Linked DNA regions of Homo sapiens: all the other regions are linked to region 2. The links come from fine-mapping of genetic effects on gene expression. A gene starts in region 2. Each other region holds a variant in brackets. All regions are shown on one strand. Distances are from middle to middle.

Evidence for each region. PIP is the estimated chance that this variant, and not a neighbour inherited with it, causes the effect.
Region 1: its variant is fine-mapped to the expression of DLGAP3 in subcutaneous fat (GTEx, PIP above 0.99).
Region 3: its variant is fine-mapped to the expression of DLGAP3 in aorta (GTEx, PIP 0.98).

The regions. Positions count from the first base shown.
Region 1 is chr1:34,866,920-34,872,139 of GRCh38, forward strand. It overlaps DLGAP3 (DLG associated protein 3), which reads right to left. Exons shown (of 12, transcript NM_001080418.3): 9 at 1,686-2,170; 10 at 617-708; 11 at 129-272. Among named protein-coding and RNA genes, the nearest start is that of SMIM12, 9.8 kb to the left of the region's middle. The variant C/A (reference allele first, on the strand shown) is at 2,194.
Region 2 is chr1:34,927,049-34,932,268 of GRCh38, forward strand. DLGAP3 (DLG associated protein 3) reads right to left here and starts at 2,602. Exons shown (of 12, transcript NM_001080418.3): 1 at 2,403-2,602. RefSeq lists silencers at 2,111-2,180, 3,161-3,210.
Region 3 is chr1:35,229,580-35,234,799 of GRCh38, forward strand. No RefSeq gene overlaps it. Among named protein-coding and RNA genes, the nearest start is that of ZMYM4, 37 kb to the right of the region's middle. The variant G/A (reference allele first, on the strand shown) is at 2,285.

The sequences.
Region 1 (5,220 bases), 60 kb before region 2:
TGTCCAAGGCTGCCCTTGCTGCCCATGGATCCCTTCCCCTGCCCCCTTGTTCGTCCCACCCTCCACCTCTCTGGGGAGGGGAATTTCCCAGAGTCTGGCCTCTTTGCCTGAAGGCACCCCAGCCCCACCTTAGGCTCCAGGAGTTTCCAGCTGTTGGCCTTGAGTTGCTGTAGCTCCAGGAACTTGAGGGTCACATCCTCGATGGAGAGCTGTAGGAGGTCCCAGAAACCCGCCAGGTCCTGGAAGGTGGGCACAGGGAACGCAGTGGGATCCTGCAACAGAGGAAGATGGAGGGAAAGTGATTGGTCAAGGAGGTCTGAGCCCCAGCCAGGACAAGAGAAAGTCCTATCCACCCTTACTGCCAGGAAGCTCAGCCTGGGAGAGTGGGTGGGGGCTGGGAGACAGGGGGACAAGAGCGAGCCCAGGACTCCCCTTCTTGTGCACAAACACCTGGTCCTACCTCCAGGCACAAGACTCACAGCTACCCCAGAAGGCATGCAGGCCTGGTCTCACCTCTGGTACACACTCACTCTGGGTCACCTGCCTGTCTCACCTCCAGCACACACACACTCTGGGTCACATGTATCTGGTAGGATCTACTACTATGGGCACTCACCATGCTTTGCTGACACAGCCGGAAGAACTGCTGAACCTTCTGGGACAGGAGAAGTTGTGTGCTGCCCACAGCACTGCGGATCTTCTCCAGGACTAGAAAGCAGAAGGAAATTCAGGGAGGGAAATGATGCATCTCCTTCCCCAGCCTCCACGAAGTCTGCCCTGAATGACGCTGACCCCTCGGTTGCTTGGCACTGTGTATCCATCAGTCTCCTCCAGCCCCAGCCCCATCCCATCCTCAAGTTCCTAACAAGTTCTCGCTCCACTACACCAAGACTGTATCCTCAGACACTGATGTTCCCTCCTTCATACAGCCTACATTTCTTGAGTGCTCATCCTTCTTTATCCTTTCTCCCTCCCGTATCAGAGAACAGACGGAAACCAGCCCCAGCCTAGCCCTATAGCCTTGGCCAGGGCATTAGCTCAATGACCACCCACTGGCTAAGCTTTGTTCATCACTCCCCAGTGCATGCAAGACTCCTTGGCTCTTTAAGAATGACCAAGTAATTTCATGTACATAACACATCTTCATAGCCACTGTCCCCTCAACTCAGAGATTCTGGGGTAAGACTGTGTCTCCCAGTGGATCTGACTTACAGGAAGGGCCATGCTCTCCCTCGGGCCAGGGCCACATCTCCCTGGCTGAATCTCCCTCTTCTGTGCCTCAGACAGGATCTGACATTGTGAACTGCCTCCCTCTCTGTAATCTTGGTCGCACCACCTGGATCCCCACACCAGTCCAGATCTGAACGGAGTTCCCTTAGTCCCCATAAACTTGGTGATTTGGACTAGCAGCCATCCATAGAAGGCCCAGCCCTTTGGCCTGCAGTGTCTGCAGTCCCAGCCCTGGCCTCTAAAGCTGCACCATGTGCACCCTGCTCCCTTTCAAGAGCTCCCAGCATGTCTTGCTGCCGATGTTGACCCGCCACGCTCCAGTGCAGAAGACCAGTGAGGCACCAACCGAAGGGGCCTCCTGTTACACTGCAGCCCCAGCCACCCCCATCAGGGTCTCCTGAGCACACACGAGGCCATGGTCCCCAGAGTCCCCTTGTTCCGATGCCGTGACTCACTCTCCTCGGGTAGCTCATAGTCCTCCGCCTCACGCTCCATCTGCTGGCACCAGTGCTCCAGCTTCTCCACCTCTGCCCGCAGCATCTTGATGAACCACTCGCCGTCGCGTGGGCAGGGGGATGCGCGGCCTGAGTCGGGGAGGCTACGTGAACCGCGCTCTATCCAGGAGTCACGGCGGCCGGCCCCAGGGCCGGGGGTGGGGGCGGGGGCAGGGCCGGGCGACCCATCGGTGGCCGGCGGCTCGTACGGCAGTGGGTAGCCCTCGCGGTAGGCCCACTGGCCCTGCGTGTGGACCGTGCGGAAGACTGAGTAGGTGGGGGCCCGGGGCCCAGGCTGGGGCTCAGAGGCGTGCCTCTGGAAGGAGCGTCCAAACTGCAGGGCCTTGTCTTCTGTGGCCACCGTGGCCAGGCCTGCCAGGCCCTCCAGCTCCAGGTCTGCCTGCACGCCAGCCGTCACACTATTGGAGCGCTTGAACCTTGCTCGCCTGGGGAGAGGGGTGGCTGTCAT[C/A]CCCCATTGCCCAGGCTCATGCCAGCTCTCACCCCCACCCCAAGCAAAAAAAAGGAAGGGAATGAGAAAGGGAACCTACAAAGTGATGGACATTAACCTATGCACTTTAAATATATTGGTCCTTGCAACAGCTACGTACATAATATACCTACCTATTGCACTGCCTCTAGATAGGGGTGATATCCAAGCTATTTAGCAACCAGTTCAGTCCATGGACAGAGCAGATGCTGGCATATACCAGGCAGAGCAGGCACAGACCAAAATGCTGCAGCAGTGCCCTGGAGAGGCTAGATTGTGGGGTGGGCTAGAGGGGTCAGGGAGGAGCCAGGGTGGTGGCTCTTTACCAGTGAAGGCAGAAGATATTTCAATTTTTTTTTTTTTTTTTTTTTTTTTGGAGATGGAGTTTTGCTCTTGTTGCCCAGGCTGGAGTGCAATGGCGCGATCTCGGCTCACCGCAACCTCCGCCTCCCGGGTTCAAGCGATTCTCCTGCTTCAGCCTCCCGAGTAACTGGGATTACAGGCATGCGCCTTTTGTCTCTTTTTGGAAGAGACAGGGTTTCTCCATGTTGGTCAGGCTGGTCTCGAACTCCCGACCTCAGGTTATCCACCCGCCTTGGCCTCCCAACGTGCTGGGATTACAGGTGTGAGCCACCACGCCTGGCCGAAGTATTTCAATATTTTAACAAATTCTATGTCTATGCTAGTTTACACCAGCTGCACTAGAGTGTCCTCAGCTCTACCTAGAGATGAGTAAACTAAGTAAACCCAGCTTCAAAGTAGCAGAGCCAGGATTTGGACTCAGCGCTGCTGGGCTCCACAGTCCAAGCACTTCCCACTGCACCAGCTGCTAGAACATCACAGGAAGAAATGCCTTGGAGCAGCTGGAGGTGGAGTGGGCCTGCAGCTGGGAGGACTTCTCTAGGGACCCCGATGGCTCAGCCCAGAGCCTGGCCAGACACAGTAAGTCAGTGCCAGTGGAGCTGAATTAAGTTGTTTGCAGGAATGACATAGGGCCTGGAAATTTCTTGTCTTTGAGTTAATAATATGCAAATCTTATGCAAACCAAAAAGTCAACTGGCCGTTTTCATTTTTTCCCTGAATTCAGAGTTCTTTTCTATAAAGAAGTCAGTGGCCGCTTAAGATGCATGAGGTTGGGACCAGGCAATACTTTAAGAAGTGGGAGTCAGGAGATGTGGGAGGTGGGGGATAAACAGAAGATCAAGGTTTGGAAATTCAAGGACCACAAAAGAAAAGCCTGTGTGTCCTGAGCTACCTCCACCCCTACATGGTCAGAAGGGATTGTGGGCCCAGCTCTAGGGTCCCTCCACCTCCCCAAGAGACTCTCCCAACCCCCGCAACTTCAGCCTTTCTCTTGCTGCCCAGGCCTTCTCTCCCTGCCTGCCTGCCTACTTCTCTCCAGCTGGCAGGCTGCCTGCTGGGAGCCTGTTGCCATAGAAACCAGGCCCAGAAGGATGCTGCAGGACCCAGGAAGGAGAGATGCACTCATGTGCAGTCTCCAACGAGCCCTATGTCCCAACCCCCACCCAGAGAGGGAGAAGGAGAGAGAACATATCCTCATTGCCTCCCACACAGTCTTCCCCTCAGTGTCTGCCCTGTCCTGCCCTGGTCAAGGTTTGCATCACCATCTGCCCTGATGATTAGACTGGCCTCCTTTCAGATACCTCTGCCTCCATCAGTACCCTGCAGAGGAAGAGCACGGGGCCAGGAGTTAGCTCTGAGTTCTAATGCTGGCTTTCTCACTGTGTGCCTTTGTCACTCACCCTCCATCTAGGTCATCCAATGTGTATGTGTGTATGTATTTAAAATATATGTATTAGATATAAATATACACACATATACATCTAAAAATACACACATATATACAATTATAGAAATAGATAAGTAATTGCCAAGGTAGTTCCTCTCTCTAAAATTATATTTTGCATATTTTAAGATCTGGGGCCCTCCCCAGTCCACCCAAGACTGGAATAGTCTTCCTAAAGCTGAGCTCTGCCAAGTCATTCCCCTGCTCAAAACCCTTCCACAGCCCCCTACTACCAACAAGACAAAGTTCAGACTTCCTGTACCAGCATTATCTGAGGCCCTGATGTCCTGGACACAGTCCTCCTCTTCAACCTCATCTCCCCCACATTCTCCTTGTTCCTTGAATCGACTATAAGCGATCCTGACTCCAAGCCTTTGCACACGCTACTCCTCTGCCTGAAATGGCCTTCCTCCTCCTGGCTCCTTGTCCATTCCCTCCTTAAGTCCTGTTTTACCTGTTTCACCCTCCACTGCCCACAAGACCACTCCTGAGTACCACACCTCCCTCAGCAGCCCTCCTGGCTTCAGAGGCAGCCCTGCCGTTCAGGCAGATTGTTCTCTTTCTGGTGAGAGTCTTGAATGTCTAGCTGCACTGTTAGGATGCATCTTGACTTACTTTGAATGTTTTTGTGCCTTTGTGCTCTAGTTAGCTTGTGGCTCCTTCAGAGCTACAGCTGTTGCAAACCACAAAGGTAAAGGAGGGGGTTGCTCCAATAAATACGTGCCTGATGATCTGCCACACCTGCGTGCTTTCCTGTCGCCCCTGCTAAACACAGCTGTGTCCTTCGGCACTGCCATGTTCGCTGCCTTCCGCCTGTCCTCTGAGATGTCTTGAGAGGATCCCATTCCATCGCGATGGAAACAGCCATACTGCCGGGAACAGAAGGACCAAGTGCCCCAGGCTGCATGCTTCTCAAGCCACTGCCTCAGTGAGCTCTCTCACATGTCTGCCTCAAAGGAGACCAAGGAAGTCGAGGAGCTGATGGGATGACCAGAAGCACAGTCCTCACCAACGCTCCTGGCCAGCAGCCAGAGATGTGTACAGCACAAGCAGGAGGCGCTTATCCCTGTGCAAGTGGCATTTAAAACCAGCAGTGTGGGACAAGCTCACCCAAGAAAAGAACAACGGATCCAAGATCCAAACCCCGGGAGAACACGGACATTTCAGGGGTGGGTGGAGACGGTGCAGCTCATAGAGGAGAC
Region 2 (5,220 bases):
GTAGCAGCTCCAGCCCCTCACCAGCAGGAATCAAGACAAGACAAGCCCATGGCCTACCTCGGTGGTGGGTGTGGCTAGGAATCCCTATCCCCAGCGACATCTGTAGCGCCCTCTCTTTGGCAAGGAGTCCCAAGCTGAAAGATGTACAGCCTTAGGCTTTTTGAGTCTTCATTTCTTTTCCAAAAATCCCCTGTACTCAGCTCTGATGGGGGTGGGGAGAGTTCAGGAATAGAAGGCAACATGGAGGATTGCAAAGTTCCTCGTCTAAGATTAGCCTAGGAACTCACAAATTCGTTGTGTGACCTTGGGCAAGTCCCCTCCCTTCTTGGGGCTTCAGAGTCCCCGGTTTGTAATGAAGAGGTTGGACCAAGTCAATACTAAGGTTCCTCTCCTGGCCATCATTCTACAGCTACATACAAGCTCACTCGTTGGATGTGAGCCCCCTGGCACAAAACTCAGCGGGCCCTGCCTGCCAGATCAGTGGGGCAGTGGCGGGTGGGAGATGCGGGGGCTGTATGTGAGGCCGTTCATCCTATGTTCATGTTCCTTTTAGAAACACCTGCCACCCTAGCCCTCCCAGCTCCCTTTTTAGACCCTGATTCACTGCCAACTCACGAAGCCTCTCCCTCCCCTCCCTCCTCTCTTCTCCCCCCACCCCCCACTCTTTTAGGCATTGGCAGCTGGGTGCAGAAGTAGCCCCAGCATTCAGGGAATGCTGCGCAGTGGTAGAGGGCAGTGCCCCCAGGGTCAGAGAGAGCACACCAGGAAGTACCACTCTCTAACCTTGGCCCAGCCCAGTTCTTTGGGTCACTGAAAGACCTGGGCTGAGGTCTTTCTGTACCACTAACTAGCAGTGTGTGGTTGTGGAAAATGCAATTCATTTCTCAAGCCTCAACATCTTCATCTGTAAATCGGCATTATATTTGGTTGAACCATATGAAATTGCTGTTTTTGTAGGTTAAATAAAAACAGTTGAATATTGCAGTTGCATATGGCTTAACGTGATACCTGTCCTGCCTGCTTCCCAAGGCTGTTGGGGAAATAAGAAGAGTTCAGAGGGCAGCATTTTCAAAAGCCCTGAACTAATATGAGGGCATTATTTTATTATTATTACTTCAAAGAGCTTAGTACAGACCCACCCGGAGCCAGTGGACTGAACCAATAACCCAGAACTTGAAGGTTTGGGACTTGGAAGTCTGGGAGAGCGCCACCTGCTCTGATGACTAACAGGGCAGACGCTTCCACCTGGCCTCCTCATCTCCTAGCTCTAAAAGGCCCTTGGTGAAACATTATTGAGATGACACAAGTTCCCAGGCCCCCAAAAGGAGAAGCAGCACACGCAGGCACATACTCCAGCTCGCCCCAGATCCCCCCTCCCACCCACCAGGGGCCTTAGCATGCAGGAAGGACACGACCAGCAACATCCCAGAGGGCACCCCCTGAGGTAGGTGAAGGTAGAGACCAAGCTGGGGAGTGCCACAAAGCTCTTGCCTGAATCAAGGGTCAGGGGTCCCCAGAGAAGTGGGGAATGATCTGACCTCGGAAAAGTCTCATCTCCCTGTCCCATATCCCACCAGGAATGGGGGGACAGTGGGGGGGACAGAGCCCAGGTGTGGGTGATTCAGAGTGAACCGCGCTCAGATACACTCTCTCTCACACAGCCAACGCACGCGCGCGCACACGCACACACACACACACACAGTCACACAGGGCAGATACCGGGACCCACTCACAGAGACAGTCACGCCGGCACACACATCCATTCACACACTCACAGACACACACAGGCACACATGGGGACAACACACACTCATTCACTCACATGTCCACAGATGCATACACAGTACCACCCTCCACACTCACGCTGCATACACCCACTAACATGCACACACACTCTCGCCCACAGTGACACACGCACACACTCACGGCATACACTCACCGGCACACACAATCGCCCACAGACCCACACAGTGACACACTCGGCACAGACACACAGCGACACGCACTCACATTCACACACCTGCAGAGGAAACTTCTCTCCGGATCTCCCCAGCACCACGACTTCCCCCACAACCAGCTGGCTACTCCCTCCCAGACCCGAGCCTCCAGCCGGGCGAGGGCTGGGCCGGGGCTGGCCTGTCCCCGCGGCCCTGACCGGGAGCGTGGGTCCGCGGTCCGCGTGGTCCCCTGCCCGCCCCTCGGGTCGGGCCCGCGGGCAGCCAGGCCGGGGCAGGAGCGGGGGCAGCTGAGGAGGCCCAGCCCCTCCCCCCTCCCGGGGCCGGGAGCCGAGCGCCGGAGCCCGGGGCGTGGGCGGCGCCGGGGCCGCAGCCGGGCCGTGCCTGGGGGGCGCTGCAGAGGGAGCCGCGAGCGCGGCCCCGTCCCCACTCCTCCCCGCGGCTTACCTGGCCCGGCTCGGGCTCCGGCCGGGTTACATGGTGCCGGCGGCCCGGGCCGGGGGCGCTGCGGCGTTGGGCAGGCGGGCAGGGACCGGGGCCCGGCACTGCGGAGCCCCCAGCTGAGGGGCCGCGCCGGCTGCGGAGCCCCAAGCGAGCGCCGAGCGGCAGCGGGCGCGGGAGCGGGAGGCGGCCAAGCCACGGAGGCTGGATTTCCCGGGGACCGGGAAGGGGAGGCGGGGGGATCCCGCCCGCGCGCTCCGCCCCCGCCCCCGCCCCCGCGCAGGGCAGCCGAGCAGGGAGAGGGAGAGGGAGAGGAAGAGGGAGGGGGACCGAGCTCCCCGCCCCCGCGCGGACCCAGGAGGGCCGAGGTCGCCGCCCGCGGGCGGCCGCCGGGGTCCCGGAGGAGCGCCCACCTCGCTGAGCGACGGTGCTGGGGGCGCCCAGCGTAGGGGCAGGAATGAGATCCCCCTCCCCGGGGACCCAGGAACAGGCACCCGAAGTGTCACGGCCACGCACAGCCGACCTGGGTACAGGGACCCAAGCCCGGCGGCGGGCGGGCGGTCGGGGACCAGCTCAGCCTCACGGACCGGGTCTCGCCCCCCGCCGAGGGGCAGTCACGCCCTGAATGTCACACACAGCCCCCAGGCCCGTCCGCTTAGGAGACTCTCCTTCGGGCTTTCCCGGTCGGCCGCCTGACCTCAGCTCCTGGCTTGGGGTCAGGGAGCCCCCCTCTTCGGCCCCAGCCCCTGCCAGGATGGGGCGCTGTGCCCGGCCTCGGAGCCGCTGGCAGGCGTCCCCCACCCACAGTCCGCACAGCCGAGGCATCCCCAGTGTGGAGGGAGAGCCCCGCTGTACCTGCCGCCTGTGCTGGGCCCCCGCCCGTGCCCACTGTGCCCGCCCGCCTCTGGGCCCTGAGCCTGGGATTGTGCCATGGCGGGGTCGGGGTGGGGGGAAAGGGACTGTCCGAAGCACAGCTGGAGGCTGCGGAGCCCGGACACAGGCTGCGGGAGCCGAGAGGCGGAGAGCGGACTGCAGCAGTCCCCTGGCTTGAATCCGTCTTGGCGCCCAGAGCGATGCTGTAATGGGGGGGAGGGGGCCACGGTGGGGAAGCCGCAGGGGGAGGGGCTGAAGACGTGGGGGAAGGGGTGGCTCCGGATTCCGGCTTTCCAGGGTAGGTGTGAGGAAACACTGCCTCCGGCGCTGAAAGTTGGGGGTGGAGGTTCAGTGGGCATCCTTAAAGCCCTCTTCCCTCCTCTACCTTTTCCGGTCTTGAAAGCTTGGGATGGTGAGGTGTGGGCTTGGGAGGCTTGAGACTGCCCACCTCTCTAGGAACATACCTTGGAGTTGTTCTGATTCAACGGCCCCCACCCCGCACCCCAACAACTCCCTGCTCTCTGTTTCCTTGTGGGGCCACCGGCTCTCCTCCCTGTATAAAGGGGAAAGTGAGGCACGGAAAGGAGAAGCCAAAGGCCCAGAAGAGCTAGAACTGGGAGCCAAGACCTCTTTTCCCCAGGGAGATGATGTTTTAAGATGCCACATTACATTAAATAACATAAGGGGCTTGGAGAGCCCTCTTCCCAAGGGATACCTAGAAGTCTGGTAAGAGACTAGTAGATTGGTCACCTACCCTGCTGCTCACAAGAACGGTTCATTGTCTCTTCAATCATGAAGTGAGGTTGCAGACCATTTCCAGCCCAGGGTTCAGTCAAGAGCAGATGTCATGAAAATAAGAAAGTTGTTCCCAGGAACCCACTTTAGAACTGAAGGAAACATCTCACTTTCCGTGGAGCATAAGAACAGCCGTTGGGCCGAGCGCAGTGGCTCATGCTTATAATCCTAGCACTTTGGGAGGCCAAGGCGGGTGGATTACCTGAGGTCAGGAGTTCAACACCAGCCTGGCCAACATGGTAAAATCCCGTCTCTACTAAAATTACAAAAAATTAGCCGAGTGCAGTGGCACGTGCCTGTAATCCCAGCTACTCAGGAGGCTGAGGCAGGAGAATTGCTTGAACCCGGGAGGCACAGGTTGCAGTGAGCTGAGACTGTGCCACACTGCAGCCTGGGCAACAGAGCCAGATTCAGTCTTAAAGAAAAAAAAAAAAAAGGATGAGCTGACGGCCGGGCACAGTGGCTCACGCCTGTAATCCCAGCACTTTGGGAGGCTAAGGCAGACGGATCACCTGAGGTCGGGAGTTCGAGATCAGCCTGGCCAACATGGTGAAACCCTGTCTCTACCCGAAATACAAAAATTAGCCCGGTGTGGTGTTGGGCGCCTGTAATCCCAGCTACTCAGAGGCTGAGGCAGGCGAATCACTTGAATCCGGGAGGCAGAGGTTGCAGTGAGCAGAGATTGCACCATTGCACTCCTGCCTGGAACTCCGTCTCAAAAAAAAAAAAAAAAAAAAAAAGAACAGCCGTGATAGAGGATGTTAAAAAGCACCACCGTGTTTTCGCAGTTCTAAGACCTGTATTTTGTAAACTATTCTGAAACTGGAAAGCATCTTACAATAAACAGGGACATTTAATATGGCTCTTCTTACCTTTCTGTTAAAGCTATTAGAGTTGGTGCATTTTAGAATTGAGAACATAATGTTATTTTCATTTGTTCATTCAACAACCCTTTACTGATTATACCTGGCACCTTGCTAGCCTCTTGGGGGCATACAGGTTAATCAGACAGGCTTACCTTAGACAGTGTTCTCCCATAGCCATCCAGTGATTAATAACTGATTAATAAGGGAGATGGAGATGTAAACCAATAATTACTATCAGGGCCAGCTTCATGGGAGTGTGACCTGTGCAGTCGTACAGAGCCCCACATGTA
Region 3 (5,220 bases), 300 kb after region 2:
CACAGAGTTGGAGACCACTGGAGCAAGAGCCCTGATTGTAATGTTCCTTGGGATTTTTATTGAATTAAAAGAGCATGGTAACACCCCTAAGTACCCTTTAGAGACCTCTGATTTGTATAGGTTATATCCTACACAAATGAAGACTTCTGCCCAGGACCAGTCAGAGGGAGGATTCTGCCCAGGACCAATCAGAGGCATCCTGCCTGTGATGCATATGCAAATGAAGGTTTCAGAATAGACCAATTACAGACATTCCTGTTCAGGATGTAGGGGAGGAGAGGTTCAGAAAGTGGGGGACATTTGGTCCCTCATTACTTTGTTGTGGAAAGGTGGGGTTTTCCTCTTAGTCCACTTCCAAGAAGGCAACCATGGGTTGGCCTTAGGCTTCCTGTCTCCAGACCCTATTCTCCCACCTCAGTCCTACAATGTCCCTGGAACTAGGCTAGACATCAACAGATATGATCTTACTGAATCTTCCCAGGAACTTACAAGATGGGTGTCGTTGTTCCTACTTTACAGATGAGGAAACAGAAGTTAGGAGAACAGCTAACTTGCCCAGCTCACCCAAGGAGGCACTGTGCTAAGTATGCAGCAAGGGAAACAGGTTACCTGTTTCCTGTAAAAATCACCCTGGGAATTTTTACAATCTAGTGAAAACACAGACACACAAATGACTAAATAGAGAACAAAGAAAATAAGTAGAAAGGTAAAGGGACAAATAAAATGCCCAGAGAGCCTACAGAAAGGGACATTTTATCCTGACTTGGTGAGGGACAGGTGTTTGTGCTGAATCCTAAAGGACAAGTAGGATTTTTTTTGTTTTGTTTTTTGAGACAGAGTTTTGTTCTGTCACCCAGGCTGGTGTGCAGTGGCGCCATCTCAGCTCACTGCAACCTTCGCCTCCTGAGACCAAGCGATTCAGGCACCCACCATCACGCCTTGCTAATTTTTGTATTTTTAGTAGAGATGGGGTTTCACCATGTTGGCCAGGCTGATCTTGAACTCCTGACCTCAGGTGATCCGCCTGTCTTGGCCTCCCAAAGTGCTGAAATTATAGGTGTGAGCCACTGCGCCTGGCCCAACAAGTAGGATTTTAACAGAATGAAAAGGGGTTCCCAGAATGTGGCTTGAGCAAAATCATAGAAGTGTGAAAGTGTATTTTGTGTGCGGAGTACAACAAATGTCATTGTGGTTAGAACACAGAGAAGGCAGAACAAAAAGGGGTAATACCGCCAGATCATGAATGGTCTTGAAGGCCATGTTGTGGAGTGTAGACTTGTTTCTGAATGCAGGAAATATATAAGCAGAAATGAGGACAAAAATATTATGTCAATGCCTGGTTTAGAGCAATGATTCTCAAGGATTCCTGATTCTGGAGAATCCTTGAGACCTTTTCAGAGGGTTTATGAGGTCAAAACTATTCTTACAGTAATGATGATAATAGTTATACTACCTTATTTGCCTTTAAAAATTGTGATAAAAATAACAAAATGTACCATCTTTGTACATTGAAAAATTTTAAATTTTATTTATTTATTTTTTTAGAGATGGGGTCTTGCTATGTTTACTAAGCTAGGGTACAGGCATGATCATAGTGCACTACAGCTCCAAACTTCTGGCCTCAAGTGATCTTCCTGCCTCAGCCTCCCGCGTAGCTGGGACTACAGACAGTATTTGTTGCCAATAATAAATCCAAGCTTTCACATAAAATTAGAAGTTTGGAAAAGTTGTATTTGCCATCATGAGGTTGACAGCTTTGTGATACTGAAGGTTTTTATTATATTAATAAGGTTGATTGTGATATTAATGAATAACACTTTTAAACATCTATAATGATATATGCACCACTGCATCCAGCCTACGTTTGTACATTTTTAAGTGTATAATTCAGTAGTGTCAAGTAGATTCACATTATTGCACAACAGATCTCTAGAACTTTTTTCATCTTCCAAAACTGAAAATCTATACCCATTAAACAACTCTTCATTTTCCCCCTCTGCAAGCCTCTGGCAGCCACAATCCTACTTTATCTTTCTGGGTATTTTACTACTTTGGACACCTTTTAAAAGGAGCCTTTCTGAACCTATTCTGGTTTGGGGCTTCCTTGCTACATTTGTGTTTTGTTTTGTTTTGTTTTGTTTTGAGACAGTCTTACATTGTTGCCCAGACTGGAGTGCAGTGATGTGATCTTGGCTCACTGCAACCTCTGCCTCCCAAGTTCAAGTGATTCTTCTGCCTCTGCCTCCCAAGTAGCTGAGATTACAGGTGCCTGCCACCACGACTG[G/A]CAAGTTTTTGTATTTTTAGTAGAGATGGGGTTTCACCATGTGGGTCAGGCTGGTCTCGAACTCCTGACTTCAAGCAATCCACCTGCCGCGGCTTCTTAAAGTGCTAGGATTACAGACTTTTTTTATTATGCTTGGATATACAGCATATACAGATATATAGTTTATTTGAGATTGATAAACTTTTTTAAAAAAATCTCATATAATTGGAATCATATAGAAGCTGTCTTTTTGTAGCTGGCTTATTTCACTTAGCATAATGTCCTCAAGATTCATCCATGTTGTAGCATGTGTCAGAATTTCCTTTTTAGGCCAGACACAGTGGCTCATGCCTGTAATCCCAGCACTTTGGGAGGCCGAGGCGGGTGGATAACCTGAGGCCAGGAGTTCGAGGCCAGCCTGGCCAACGTGGAGAAACCCTGTCTCTACTAAAAACACAAAAATTAGCAGGACATGGTGGCAGGTGCCTGTAATCTCAGCTACTTGGGAGGCTGAAGCAGGAGAATCACTGGAACCTGGGAAGCAGAGGTTGCTATCAGCCGAGATGGCACCACTGCACTCTATCCTGGGTGACAGAGCGAGACTCTGTTTAAAAAAAAAAAAAAAAAAGAAAAAAAATTCCTTCTTTTTAAAGTCTGAGTAATATTCCATTGCATATATATACACCACATTTTGTTTACCCATTTATCTGTGATGAACATTTGGATTGCTTCCACTTCTTGGCTATTGTAAATAATGCTGCTATGAACATGGGTATGCGTATATCTCTTTAAGATCCTGCTTTCAATTTCTTTGAGTATATACTCAGCAGTGGGATTGCTGGATCATACAGTATTTTCGTTTTTAATTTTTGGAGGAACCACCATACTGTTTTCCATAGCAGGTACACCATTTTCTATTCTGTTATTAGCCTTTTTAACTGGGCTGACATTTGCATTGATGCTGCAAATCAATGGCAGGTTTATCTGCTGGACCTTACTTAACACAGTGGTGCCAGGCTGACCTTGTACTCATTGCACTCTTTTTTTTTTTGAGATGGAGTCTCACTCTGTCGCCCAGGCTGCAGTGCAGTGGCACGTGATCTCGGCTCACTACAAGCTCCGCCTCCCAGGTTCACACCATTCTCCTGCCTCAGCCTCCCGAGTAGCTGGGACTACAGGCGCCCGCCACCATGCCTGGCTAATTTTTGTATTTTAGTAGAGACGAGGTTTCACCCTGTTAGCCAGGATGGTCTCGATCTCCTGACCTTGTGATCTGCCCGCCTTGGCCTACCAAAGTGCTGGGATTACAGGCATGAGCCACTGCGGCCGGCCCTCATTACACTCTTTACCGACACCTTTACTGACACAGTAAAACAAATGTTCTTGGTGAAGCAGTAAAAATTATTAATTTTAATTTTATCAAATCACAACCCTCAAGGCATGTCTTTTTTTTTTTTTTTTTTTTTTTGAGACTGAGTTTCACTCTGTCACCCAGGCTGGAGTGCAGTGGCTCAATCCTGGTTGACTGCAACCTCCGCCTCCCAGATTCAAGCAATTCTCCTGCCTCAGCCTCCTGAGTAGCTGGGACTACAGGCATGCACCACCACGCTCAACTAATTTTTGTATTTTCAGTAGAAACGGGGTTTCACCATGTTGGCCAGGCCTGTCTCAAACTCCTGACCTCAGGTGATTCACCTGCCTTGGCTTCCCAAAGTGCTGGGATTATAGGCGTGAGCCACCACGCCTGGCCAAGACATGTCTTCTTAATAAAGCACTTCTGCTGTACATCCAAGCATAATAACTACTTCAAGGAAAAGCACTTGTGGGATTGGATCTAGTTCTAGGAACAGAATAGCTCCTTTTTTTTTTCTTTTCTTTTCTTTTTTTTTTTTTTTTGAGACGGAGTTTCACTCTTGTCACCCAGGCTGGAGTGCAATGACGCGATCTCCGGTCACTGTAACCTCTGCCTCCTGGGTTCAGGAGAGTCTCCAGCCTCAGCCTCCCAAGTAGCTGGGATTACAGGCTCCCGCTACCATGCCCAGCTAATTTTTGTATTTTTAGTAGAGACAGGGTTTCACCATGTTGGCCAGGCTGGTCTCAAACTCCTAACCTCAGGTGATCCACTGGCCTTGGCCTCCCAAAGTTCTGGGATTACAAGCATGAGCCACCTTGCTGGGCCCTTTTTTTCATAAAATGCCATTTTTGCTTGGAAGAATGACTGACAGATAAACTATGGTTATACAGACGGGTATTTGGCATTTTTCTCAAAAGTGAGTGAAGTGAGACCATTAATTCATGGAAAACAACCGATAGTATTCACTGCCAATAATAAATCCAAGCTTTCACATAAAATGAGAATTTTGGAAAAGTTGTATTTGCCATCTTGAGCTTGACAACTTTGCAATACTGAAGGTTTTTATTATAAGATTGGTTGTGATATTATGAATGGGATTTTTTAATGTTTATAATGATATTAATGAATGAGATCTTTTATTTGAAAGATTGGCATAACTTCGTGAATCAATATTTTCCAAATGCATGGTGTTACAAAATTATTCATAGGTAGAACAGTCACTCGTTACAAGACAGACTGAGGGATTTTGATGTAACAGAATACCAAAAATTCATTGGTGTGGTTTCAGATTCCACATTGAAACTACCCTTTAAGAAACTACAATTTGTTGGCCAGGCACGGTGGCTCACTCCTCTAATCCCAGCACTTTAGGAGGCCGAGGCAGGTGGATCACTTGAGGTCAGGAGTTCAAGACCAGCCTGGCTGGCTGGGCACAATAGCTCATGCCTGTAATCCCAGCACTTTGGGAGGCTGAGGCGGGTGGATCACCTGAGGTCAGAGGTTCGAGACCAACCTGACCAACGTGGTGAAACCCTGTCTGTGCTAAAAATACAAAAACTTAGCCAGGCATGGTGGTGGATGACTGGAATCCCAGCTACACGGG